Homo sapiens: one gene and its partners. The protein of the gene in region 3 purifies or fractionates together with the protein of the main gene of each other region. This does not show direct contact. Each region holds a gene or a part of one and is shown on either strand. Other genes may lie near its edges.

Region 1 (3,646 bases), on a different chromosome or scaffold from region 3:
ACTTAAAAATGGCTAATTTAGGCTGGGCACAGTGGCTCATACCTATAATCACATCACTTTGGGAGGCCGAGGCAGGAGGATCACCTGAGGTCAGAAGTTCATGACCAGCCTGGCCAACCTGGTGAAACCCCGTCTCTACTAAAAATGCAAAAATTAGCCAGGCATGGTGGTGTGTCCTGTAATCCCAGCTTCTCAGGAGGCTGAGGCAGAAGAATGGCTTGAACCCAGGAGGCAGAGGTTGCAGTGAGCCGAGATAGCGCTGCTGCACTCCAGCCTGGGCAACAGAGCGAGGCTCTTGTCTCAAAAAAAAAATAAAGATAGAAAATGGTTAATTTGGCCGGGCATGGTGGCTCACACCTGTAATCCCAGCACTTTGGGAGGCCGAGGCGAGGTGTTCACGAAGTCAAGAGATCGAGACCATCCTGGCCAACCAACATGGTGAAACCCCATCTCTACTAAAAATACAAAAATTAGCTGGGCATAGTGGCGCATACCTGTAGTCCCAGCTACTCAGGAGGCTGAGGCAGGAGAATCGCTTGAACCCGGGAGGTGGACGTTGTAGTGAGCTGAGATCGCGCCACTGCACTCCAGCCTGGGCGACGAGCGAGACTCTGTCTCAGAAAAAAATGATAGAGAGAGAAAGAGAGAATGGTTGATTTAAAAAGCATGCAGTTTATATAGAATAAATAAAATTGTTAATTTATGTTATATCGATCTTACTTCAATGTAAAAAACCAAGGGCTCACTCCTGTAATCTAGCACTTTGGGAGCCTGAGGCAGAAGGACCACTTAAGCTCAGGAGTTCAAGACCAGCCTGGGCAACAAAATAAGACCTCGTCTGTACTAAAAAATAAAAAAGATTAACTGGGTGTGGTGGCGCTTGCCTATAATCCCAGCTACTCAGCAGGCTGAGTTGGGAGGATCGCTGGAGCCCAGGAGGTCAAAGCTGCAGTAACCAGAGATCACACCCCTGCACTCCTAGGTGATAGAGTGAGACCCTGTCTCAAAAATAATAATAATAAAAAAATAACCCCCAGGCCGGGCGCTGTGGCTTACGCCTGTAATCCTGGCACTTTGGGAGGCCGAGGCGAGCGGATCACCTGAGGTTGGGAGTTCAAGACCAGCCTGACCAGCATGGAGAAAACCCCGTCCCTACTAAAAATACAAAATTAGCTGGATGTAGCGGCACGCACCTGTAATCCTAGCTACTCGGGAGGCTGAGGCAGTCGAATCGCTTGAACCCAAGAGGCAGAGGTTGCGGTGAGCCAAGATCGCTCCATTGCACTTGAACCTGGGCAACAAGAGCAAAACTCCGTCTCAAAAAAGTAAATAAAAATAGGACCAGGCGCGGGGGCTCACGCCTGTAATCCCAGCACTTTGGGAGGCCGACGTGGGCAGATCGCGAGGTCAAGAGATCGAGCCCATCCTGGCTAACACGGTGAAACCCTGTCTCTACTTAAAAGAAAAAAATTATCCGGGCGTGGTGGTGGGCACCTGTAGTCCCAGCTACTCAGGAGGCTGAGGCAGGAGAATGGTGTGAACCCGGAAGGCAGAGCTTGCAGTGAGCTGAGATCGCGCCACTGCACTCCAGCCTGGGTGACAGAGCGAGACTCTGTCTCTAAATAAATAAATTAATAAATAAAACCCCCAAAATGCACAGCTATCATGGCTTAGTTGAGGGTGCAGGCTGGTCAGGCTGCTTTTCCAGTGCCAGGTGTGAGCTTTCTCTTCTCATTCTTTAAATTAGGGGTCGCTGTGATGAAATTCAAGAACCCCCCAGTGAACAGCCTGAGCCTGGAGTTTCTGACGGAGCTGGTCATCAGCCTGGAGAAGCTGGAGAATGACAAGAGCTTCCGCGGTGTCATTCTGACCTCGGTAGGTGCTAGTTCAGCTCCCTACCCCAGCCCGAGTTCTTGGCCTGAGTTCTCTGATGTGAGCCCAGGCCTGTTGCACATGGAAGAGGCAGAGCCTGCCAACGTGTGGCACAGGCCAGCCGGCAGCCCCACCACCCTGGACTCCAGGCGCCTTCACGGGAGGCTTCCAGGAGCACCGTCTGGGTGTGCCCCAGCAGGGACCCAAACTGCCATGGGCCTCAAGCAGATCATTCCCAAAGGTGAAGGTGGACCAGTCTCAGAGACAGCCTTCCCAGGAGACAGCTTTCCCAAGAGACGCCCTTCCCGGGAGACAGCCTTCCCAAGAGGCAGCCCTCCTGGGAGACCGCCTTCCTGGGAGACAGCCTTCCCTGCCCGGGCCGTCGTCCAGGCGGACACTGGGGAGAGCTGTGGGCAGCGAGTGAGGGAGAGCCATGCATCTATGGGGTCACCTTGGACCCTAAGCACACCTGGTGGTGGGTTCCTGGAGTGCTCCCCACTAGGATCACTTGGGTGCCCTGAGCCAGTCCTGCGAACAATACCCATGCTCTCTGATCCTCTGTGGGCCAGTCTTCAGGGCGAGTTCTCAAGGGTGAACCTCTTTGGTCTGAGTTCTTGTGCAGGGGACTCTAAATGTTGCCTGAGTGCTGGCGAACGCTAGGCGTGTCATCTGTGGGAACGGTGTCATTACCAACATCGCCGAGGGGCAGTAAGCAGTGTCAGGCCCAGGAGGATGGGACCCTTGAGGAGAAGCGGGCATTGGCTGAGGTGAGGGGAGTGAGGGGTCCTCGGAGGCTGGCGTGGCTTTACAGGGCCTGGCCTAGAACTCCTGACCTCAAGTGATCTGCCCACCTCGGCCTCCCAAAGTGCTGGCCACGTCCAGCCTTATATATTTATTGAGACAGAATCTCCCTCTCTTGCCCAGGCTGGAGTACAGTGACGTGATCTTGGCTTACTACAACCTCCGCCTCCTGGGTTCAAGCGATTCTTGAATCTTGAAAATTTTTAAAATTTTTGGGAGAGACAGTGCCTTTATTGCCCACGTTGGTCTTGAACTCCTGGGCTCAAGCACTCCTCCCACCTCGGCTCCCCAGTGTGCTAGGATTACAGGTGCGAGCCATTGCACCTGGTTAATTTTTTTGCTTAATTTTTACTTTTTTGTACAGGCGGGGTCTTGCTATGTTGCCCAGGCTGGTCTTGAACTCCTGGCCTCAAGCAGTTCTCCAATCTTGGCCTCCCAAAGCTCTGGGATTACAGGCATGAGCCACCACGCCAGGCCTGGGTTTTGAGTAACGGAAGTAGAACGCGTTTTGTAGAAACAAAGGACCGGCCTACCCATTCTGTGCGGCACCAGCTCACACCTGTTTGGGAACAGCGGAGCTGCGTTGCCCACCCGCACCGTTCCTGGCTTTTTCACATCGCCTGAGGATGTGGAGGCCATCCCATCTGTCCCAGCCGCCTCCTCCTCGCACACATTAGGTGGCTGTCGCCCTCCTTCCTGCAGACAGGGCGGGGTAAACATCCACCCAGCTCTGCTTGTGTGAGTCAGGGTGAGCTGGGTTCAGCTGCAGGAACAAGTTCACCCACAGCCTTGGGGGGTCTGGCCCTCGGGAGGAAAACGTGCCGTGTTGTGCAGAGGGGAAGGTACCCTTGTCATTTGCTCAGGGGGCTGTGACCATGCAGGGTCCCCAGGGTGGGTTCTCCACTCCTCCCCGAGCCCGCCTCCCTGGCCGGCAGCCCTGACTGGGAGTCTGAGGCTCCTGTGCTGGCGCCCG
Region 2 (3,746 bases), on a different chromosome or scaffold from region 3:
ACTAAAATTAAAATAGATTTAAAAAAATAATTAAAAAACAAAGAAAAAGGAAATCACTGTATTTTTCAGCTTCAGTGGCAAAGAAATTTAACTGCAGAGAGTTAAGGAGAAATAGATGCAGAATACATGGGAGGTAATGAGTAAAGACCACTCCTTTGACCAGAGAGAGAAAAGTGATTAGAGCTAGAAAGGCAATGTGCTCCAATAAAGTCCATAAAGATTTGTTGACCATAAAAGAGACCTGGTAAGCAAAGGGAAAAGAGCCAATGTAATGAGAGGTCAAATTCCATTCTACAAAATAGCACAGAAAACTGGAAATCCTGTTTATAGTTCAGTAAATGACCATTTAATTCAAGTGTCCAATACAACTGCTTCCTAGAGTTCAGTAATATGAATGTCACATATCATACATTACAGCATGTACAGGCTTATTTTTTTCATGAGGAGTATTTGTGTTTCATTTTAAGATCTTTTTTTTTAAGACGGAGTCTCACTCTGTTGCCCAGGCTGGAGTGCAGTGGCATGATCTCAGCTCACTGCAACCTTCCCCTCCTCCCGGGTTCAAGCGATTCTCCTGCCTCAGCCTCCCAAGTAGCTGGGATTACAGGCGCCTGCCACCACACCCAGCTAATTTTTGTGTGTGTGTGTATTTTTAATAGAGGTGGGGCTTCACCACGTTGGCCAGGCTGGTCTTGAACTCTTGACCTCAAATGATCTACCCACCCCGGCCTCCCAAAGTGCTGGGATTACTGGCATAAGCCACCTCAACCAACCTGATTGTAAGATCTTAATTAAACCATAAATTAAGAAGGTTCTGAACTTTTTTTTTTTACATCTCTAGAGTACCTAGTTCACCTATGTCACCTAGTCAATACTGACTGAAACCCAAGATAACCTAATTACTTTCTTGTGATTTCTTCACTCATCCCATGAGACTAACAAATAGGCTAAAAACTCATCTTCCCTGGAAACCTACGCCTTGTGACTTTTCTATTATCTCAGTCACCCAGGATCAATTTTAGACTCTTTCTTTTCCCTTGGCTTCGCACCCTCACTCCCTAATTGTCAAGTCCTAGACTGGTTCTTTTACAATCTCTTGCAAAGCTCCTACCGCCAGCACCCTTGTGCAAGTAATGTTATTCTACGCCCAGACGTAAGAACTAGAGTGACCTACCATTGCAACAAAAACAAACATATCAACAATCCCTACTTAACTAGGGTCAAGTCCATACTCACAACATAACTGGATCTCCAAGCTTATTGCCCCCATCGACCTAGAAAACTCAAGCTTCACCAACCACACCCTGAAGGTCTCTACCTATTCCTGAGGCTTTGCCTGACAATCTGTGGTGCGTACTCCCTTGCTTACGCATGTGGAGAATAAATTCTTTGAGACTCTGCCCCTGCTGTGTTCCCTAAACACAACGGTCAGAAGAGCGACAGCCCTTGGAACGCCCTCAGTATGTGAGCTTTGCTCATATGTCAAGTATAATTTATTGTATTATCTGAGTAGTCATTTGTTTTCCCTGATAAATTTCAGGCTGCTCCAAAAAACATCTGTTATGATCACATGGTGCCCTCTCCCCTTGTATGCCCAATGATTATCTATTGTATTAAAAAAGAAAAGGAACCTCTCCTGACAATAACGCACACAAATATGTTTTAAAGAAAATCTCGGGAGCAGCTGCACAGGCCTGCAAAGAGACTCTCCCCGATCCCACCGCTCAGGCCGGGCCAGCGCCAATCCTGGCGGTCCTGCCCGCCCAGACACGTGCCCTTGTTTGACACACCAGTAACGCTCATTAAGATGATTACGCCGAGACCTTGGAAGTAGAAACGCGCTGTAAAAATAGGCGAGTCCCTGGGTGTTATCGGAGCACTTAGGCGGTTTTTGGACCAGAACCCGTCGCGTGACTGTCCTGGGGCCTAAGCCGCGCGCCCGGGCCGCGGGAGCCGCAACGGCCGCGGGCTGGAAGCTTCCGAGGCGGGGACTCCTCGCATCCCGGGTCTGAGTGCTGTGGGGACGAACCCCGCTCACCTGCACCAGCCTCCGGAGCAGGGGGCTGCGGCTGCGGGCGCCGCTGCGCAGAAGTGCCGCCAGCACAGCCATGGTCGCAGAGGGCTGAGTATCGGCTCCACAGGCGTAGACTAGCGGCCTCCTCCCCAACCCCGCACCCCTAGCGGCCCGGCGCGGGCACCGCCCATCCCGCTTCCTCCAATAGTCGCCTCTCAGTCGGCGGCGATTGGCCGGCAGCCAAGGGCGGGGCGGAGCCTGGCGCTGGGACACCGCAGCCTGGGCCAGGAAAGGTTGACGAGTGAAGGACGTGGATGGAGACACTGGCGCTGGGGTCAACGAGCACCTGACACGCTGCTGGCTCCCGTGTCCACCAAGTCTAACCTGCCGGGGCCGGTGGTTTATGTGTAATCCGAGATTTTTCGATTTACTGAGCATGTTTCCCTTAGGCCTACCCAGCACAAACTCATGAAAATATTTTAGGATTTTTTTTTTTTTTTTTGAGACAAGGTCTCACTCTGTCACCCAAGCTGGAGTGCAGTGACGTGACCACAGCTCACTGTAATCTCGACCATCAGGGCTCAAGCGATCCTCCCTCCCCAGCCATCCCAGTAGCTGAGACTACAGGCGAAAGCCTCCACAACCAGATAATTTTTGTATTTTTTGTGGAGACGGGGTTTCACCATGTTGGCCAGACTGGTCTTGAACTCCTGGACTCAAGTGAGCCTCCCTCCTCGGCCTCCCAAAGTGCTGGGATTACAGGCGCAGGCGACCACGCCCAGCAAATTGTTGTATTTTTTTTTTTTTGTAGAGACTAGGTCTCCCTATGTTGCCTAGGCTGGTTGCTGACTCCTGGGCTCAAGCAGACGGCCAGACTCAGCCTCTCAAAGTGCTGGGATTACAGGCGTGAGCCATCACACCCAGCCGTGAAAATATTTTGAAGCAATCAAATTCCAGGCTCAGTCCAGATACAAATATGGGTAAAAAGGCCTCAGGTGATTCCAGTCCCCAACCTTCAACCACTCCAGCTGAGACCCCAGACATCATGGAGCAGAGACAAGCCATACCCACCATGCTGTCTGAATTCATGGTCCACAGAAACGAGAGAAAACAAATGGTTGTTATTTTAGGCCATTATGTTTTGGAGTATTTTTTTTTTTTAAGATAGGGTCTCGCTCTTGTCACCCAGTCTGGAGTACAGTGGTGCAATCATATCTCACTGCAGCCTCAAACTCCTGGTCTCAGGGGATCCTCCTGTCTCTGCCTCCCAAGTAGCTAGGGGATCCTCCTGTCTCTGCTTCCCAAGTAGCTACGTAGCTAGGACTACAGGCATGCTCCACCATGCTAATTTTTTTAATTTTTATTTTATATAGAGAAGGGGTCTTGCTATGTTGCCCAGGCTGGTCTCAAACTCCTGGCCTTAAGAGATCTTCTGGCCTTGGCCTCCCAAAGCACAGATATTATAGGCATAAGCCACCTAAATAGGTCTGTTTGGGGGTAATTTTTTTTTTTGAGACAGTCTCGCACTTGTCACCCAGGCGCGATCTTGACTCACTGCAACCTCTGCCTCCTGAGTTCGCCTCAGCCTCACGAGTAGCTGGGATTACAGGCGCACGCTGCCAAGCCTGGCTAATCTTTTGTATTTTAGTAGAGACGGGTTTTCACCATGTTGCCCAGAGGCTGGTCTCAAACTCCTGAGCTCACGCAATCCGCCCCCACTAGGCCTCCCAAA
Region 3 (3,646 bases):
ACCCTTCTGGCTTCTCCTGCTTCTCTGTTGACTCCTCCCCCTCCTCTCCCAGCCACCTCTCCTCATCACGTGACCCTGCTTCCCCCTCACCTGGCTCCTTCCGTTCCTCTCCTGGACCCTCCTCCTCTCCTGACTCCTCCCCCTCCCCTGCCCCCCTCCCCTGGCTCCTCTTCCCTCTCCTGGCTCCTCCTTCTCTCCTGGACCCTCCCCTATCCTGGCTCCTCCTCCTTCTCTCCTGGCCCCTCCCCTCCCCTGGCTCCTCCTCCCCCTCTCCTGGCTCCTCCTCCCCCTCTCCTGGCTCCTCCCCTTATCCTGGTTCTTCCTCCTCCTCCCCTGACCCCTCCCCCTCCCCTGGTTCCTCCTCCTCCTCTCCTGACCCCTTTTCCTCTCCTGGCCCTTCCCCTCATCACCTGACCCCGCCTCCCTCTCACTTGGTTCCTCTCATTCCCCTCCTGGTCCCGCCTCCTCTCCTGGCCCCTTCTCCTCCATACCCTCCTCGGTTCGTCCCTATTTTGTGTCAGCCAGTCATGGGTCCGCCCCCCCTCTAGCCCCTCCCCTGAGGCCTCACCTCCTTCCCCCTTCCCCTTAGTAGCTCCTCCCGCGGCTCCCCGGCCCGCCCACCTGTGCACGTAGTTGTGGGAATGCAGGTGCGCCAGCCCGCGGGCGATCTCCAGGCCCATCCTCTGCAGCGTCCGCAGGTCTCGAGGGGGTAGCTCAGGGGACAGGCCCTCGGGGGGCCGCTGGGCTCGGAGGTAACGCTTCAGGTCCCCCTGGGAGGGAGGCAAAGAAGGTCAGCACCACCAGCCGCTCAGGTCTCCAGCTAGTCGGCCCGGAGGCTGGAATGGCTTCTGCTGTCACTGGGTAGCCCCTCTGAGCCTTAGTTTCCTCTGCTGCTTGCAGCAGGTAATAACACAGCCCATCTTGCCTGCTTGTTCAGGCCAGCCCCCAGGACAGGCAGCACTCATGAAATGTTAGCGCATGCCACACATCATCTACGATGATGATGATGATGACGACGAAGCCCAGGGGCACCAGGCTTGGCCCCGGCCTTGTCCAGCTGCCCCCTCTGCCCTTCCCCAACCCCCCAAGACCCTCACCAGTTGACAGAACTCCATAATCAGCAGAAACGGCAGCGTCTCCACGCACAGACCCAGGCACTGGAGGACATTGGGGTGCTGCAGGCTCCTGTGGAGTGAGGAGGTGGCTGAGTTGGGAAGGCAGCCCCTTCCTCTTCATCCTGCCCCAACCCCCAGCAGAACCAAACTGCTGCCTCCACCCTTTTTTGTTGTTTTTGTTTGTTTGTTTGTTTTGAGACGGAGTCTCGCTCTGTCGCCCAGGCGGGAGTCCTGCCTCAGCCTCCTGAGTAGCCAGGATTACAGGCATGCGCCACCACGCCTGGCTAATTTTTGTATTTTTAGTAAAGATGGGGTTTCACCATGTTGGCCAGGCTGGTCTCGAACTCCTGACCTCAAGTGATCCACCCTCCTCAGGCTCCCAAAGTGCTGGGATTACAGGCGTGAACCACCGCACCCGGCCCACTCTACCTTTTTGATCTCAGTTTCCTCACCTCGGAGTCTCTCTCCTCGACCACACCCCACTCCTTCCCCAGGTCCCCATCTCTGGATGGCCCTCACTGGCCTGCTCCTGGGGGAGCAGGTCCCCAGGGACCCCTTTACCTCTCCTTCCTCCTTACACCTCACCTCCACCTTCATTCCTGCCCCAGACTCTTCTCAGTCTTCTCCTCCTCGTCCCCACAGCCTCCTCCCAGCCTCCCTGGCTCTAGTCTCTCCCCTTCCCTTTGCCTCACCTGCTTTTCACCACACACAGCCCTCTGTCGATCCCCAGCACCCCAGGATAGAGCGCCGGCTCTTTGATTCCTCCTGCTCCTCCGGCTGGCCCAAGAGTCAGCTTTATCCCATGTGGGTTTTCCCAAACCTGCAGGCCCTTGCTTAGGCCCGGGCCTTTGCACCTACAGTTTTCTCTCTCTCTCTCTCTCTCTTTTTTTTCCTTCCTTGCTTCCTCCCTCCCTTCCTTCCTTCCTTCCTCCCTCCCTCCCTCCCTTCCTTCCTCTTTGAGAGGGAGTTTCATTCTTATCACTCAGGCTGGAGTGCAATGGAGTGATCTCAGCTCACTGCAACCTCCACCTCCCGGGTTCAAGCGATTCTCCTGCCTCAGCCTCCCGAGTAGCTGGGATTACAGATGCCCGACACCAAGCCTGGCTAATTTTTGTATTTTTAGTAGAGACAGGGTTTCACCATGTTGGCCAGGCTGGTCTCAAACTCCAGACCTCCGGTGATACGCCCGCCTCAGCCTCCCAAAGTGCTGGGATTACAGGCGTGAACCACCGCACCCTGCCTGCACCTACGGTTCTCTCTCTGCAGAACGCCCTCCTCTCATCAGAGTTCTCTTGGCCCCTCCGGGCCTCTGCCTCAACATCATCTCCCCGGGAAGCTTTGCTGCCCCCCCAATGCCAGGTTGGATACCCTCCCCTTTACCCTCACGCTGTGGGAAAGAGTCAGACTCGGGGGTTTGAACCCTGACTCCCACTTTCCTAGGTGTGTCATCTCAGGCAAGCCACTTCGCTGCTCCCTGCCTCAGTTTTCCTCATCTGTAAAAATGGGACAGCGATAACAACTTCCTCTGAGGAATTACATGAGATCTGAGAGAAGCTGGTATGTGCTGAGATCCTAGCAATTACTGCTGTTTTAATGGCAACATATTATTTGATTTTATTTTCACCCTGCATTCTTTTTTTTAAGACAGAGTCTTGCTCTTTCGCCCAGTCTGGAGTACAGTGGTGCAATCTCGGCTCACTGCAACCTCCACCTCCCGGGTTCAAGTGATTCTCCTGCCTCAACTCCGAGTAGTTGGGATTATAGGTACACACTACCACACTCGGCTAATTTTTGTATTTTTAGTAGATAATGGGTTTCACCATGTTGGCCAGGCTGCTCTTGAACTCCTGACCTCAAGTGATCCACCCACTTCGGCCTCCCGAAGTGCTGGGATTACAGGCATGAGCCACCGTGCCCAGGCTTCACCCTGCATTCTAAATGTATTTCCAGGGCTGCTCACTCTCCATGAGCTTCTTCCTGTCCTACATCCTTTGTACCTGCTGTTCCTTCTGCCTGGAATGTACTTCCCATGGTGCTTTGCATGGCTGACTTCTCCAAGTCAACCCGGCCTCCCTGATGGTCCTATCCAAGGTGGCCCCTGTCTCTGTCACATACTGCCTCATTTTCTCATGGTATTTGTCATTCTCTGACAGTTTCTCTCTCTCTCTCTCTCTCTCTTTTTTTTTTTTTTTTTTTTTTTTTTATGAGACAGAGTCTTGCTCTGTCGCCCAGGCTGGAGTGCAGTGGTGCAATCTTGGCTCACTGCAACCTCCATCTCCCGGGCTCCAGCAATTCTCCTGCCTCATCCTCCTGAGTAGCTGGGATTACAGGCATGTGCCACCATGCCTGGCTAATTTTTATATTTTTATTAGAGACGGGATTTCACCATGTTGGCCAGGCTGGCCTTGAACTCCTGACCTCAGGTAATCCGCCTGCCTGGGCCTCTCAAAGTACTGAGATTACAGGTGTGAGCCACCACGCCCAGCTGACAGTTTCTCTTTTTAAAATGCATTTCTGGCTTGGTCTGGTGG

Evidence for each region.
Region 1: the proteins of LMTK3 (region 3) and ECI1 purify together in Homo sapiens (affinity purification with mass spectrometry; one large-scale study listed by BioGRID and IntAct). This does not show direct contact.
Region 2: the proteins of LMTK3 (region 3) and ACAT1 purify together in Homo sapiens (affinity purification with mass spectrometry; one large-scale study listed by BioGRID and IntAct). This does not show direct contact.

What each region holds. Positions count from the first base shown.
Region 1 is NC_000016.10:2,245,088-2,248,733, reverse strand, and holds part of ECI1 (enoyl-CoA delta isomerase 1, mitochondrial isoform 1 precursor), read left to right. Parts: intron 1-1,747; coding exon 1,748-1,875; intron 1,876-3,646. UniProt on the Homo sapiens protein: Key enzyme of fatty acid beta-oxidation. Able to isomerize both 3-cis (3Z) and 3-trans (3E) double bonds into the 2-trans (2E) form in a range of enoyl-CoA species, with a preference for (3Z)-enoyl-CoAs over (3E)-enoyl-CoAs.
Region 2 is NC_000011.10:108,119,971-108,123,716, reverse strand, and holds the start of ACAT1 (acetyl-CoA acetyltransferase, mitochondrial isoform b precursor), read right to left. Parts: upstream 2,151-3,746; 5' UTR 2,111-2,150; coding exon 2,039-2,110; intron 1,922-2,038; exon of another isoform or gene 1,791-1,921; intron 1-1,790. UniProt on the Homo sapiens protein: This is one of the enzymes that catalyzes the last step of the mitochondrial beta-oxidation pathway, an aerobic process breaking down fatty acids into acetyl-CoA.
Region 3 is NC_000019.10:48,501,812-48,505,457, forward strand, and holds part of LMTK3 (serine/threonine-protein kinase LMTK3 precursor), read right to left. Parts: intron 1,186-3,646; coding exon 1,098-1,185; intron 771-1,097; coding exon 622-770; intron 1-621.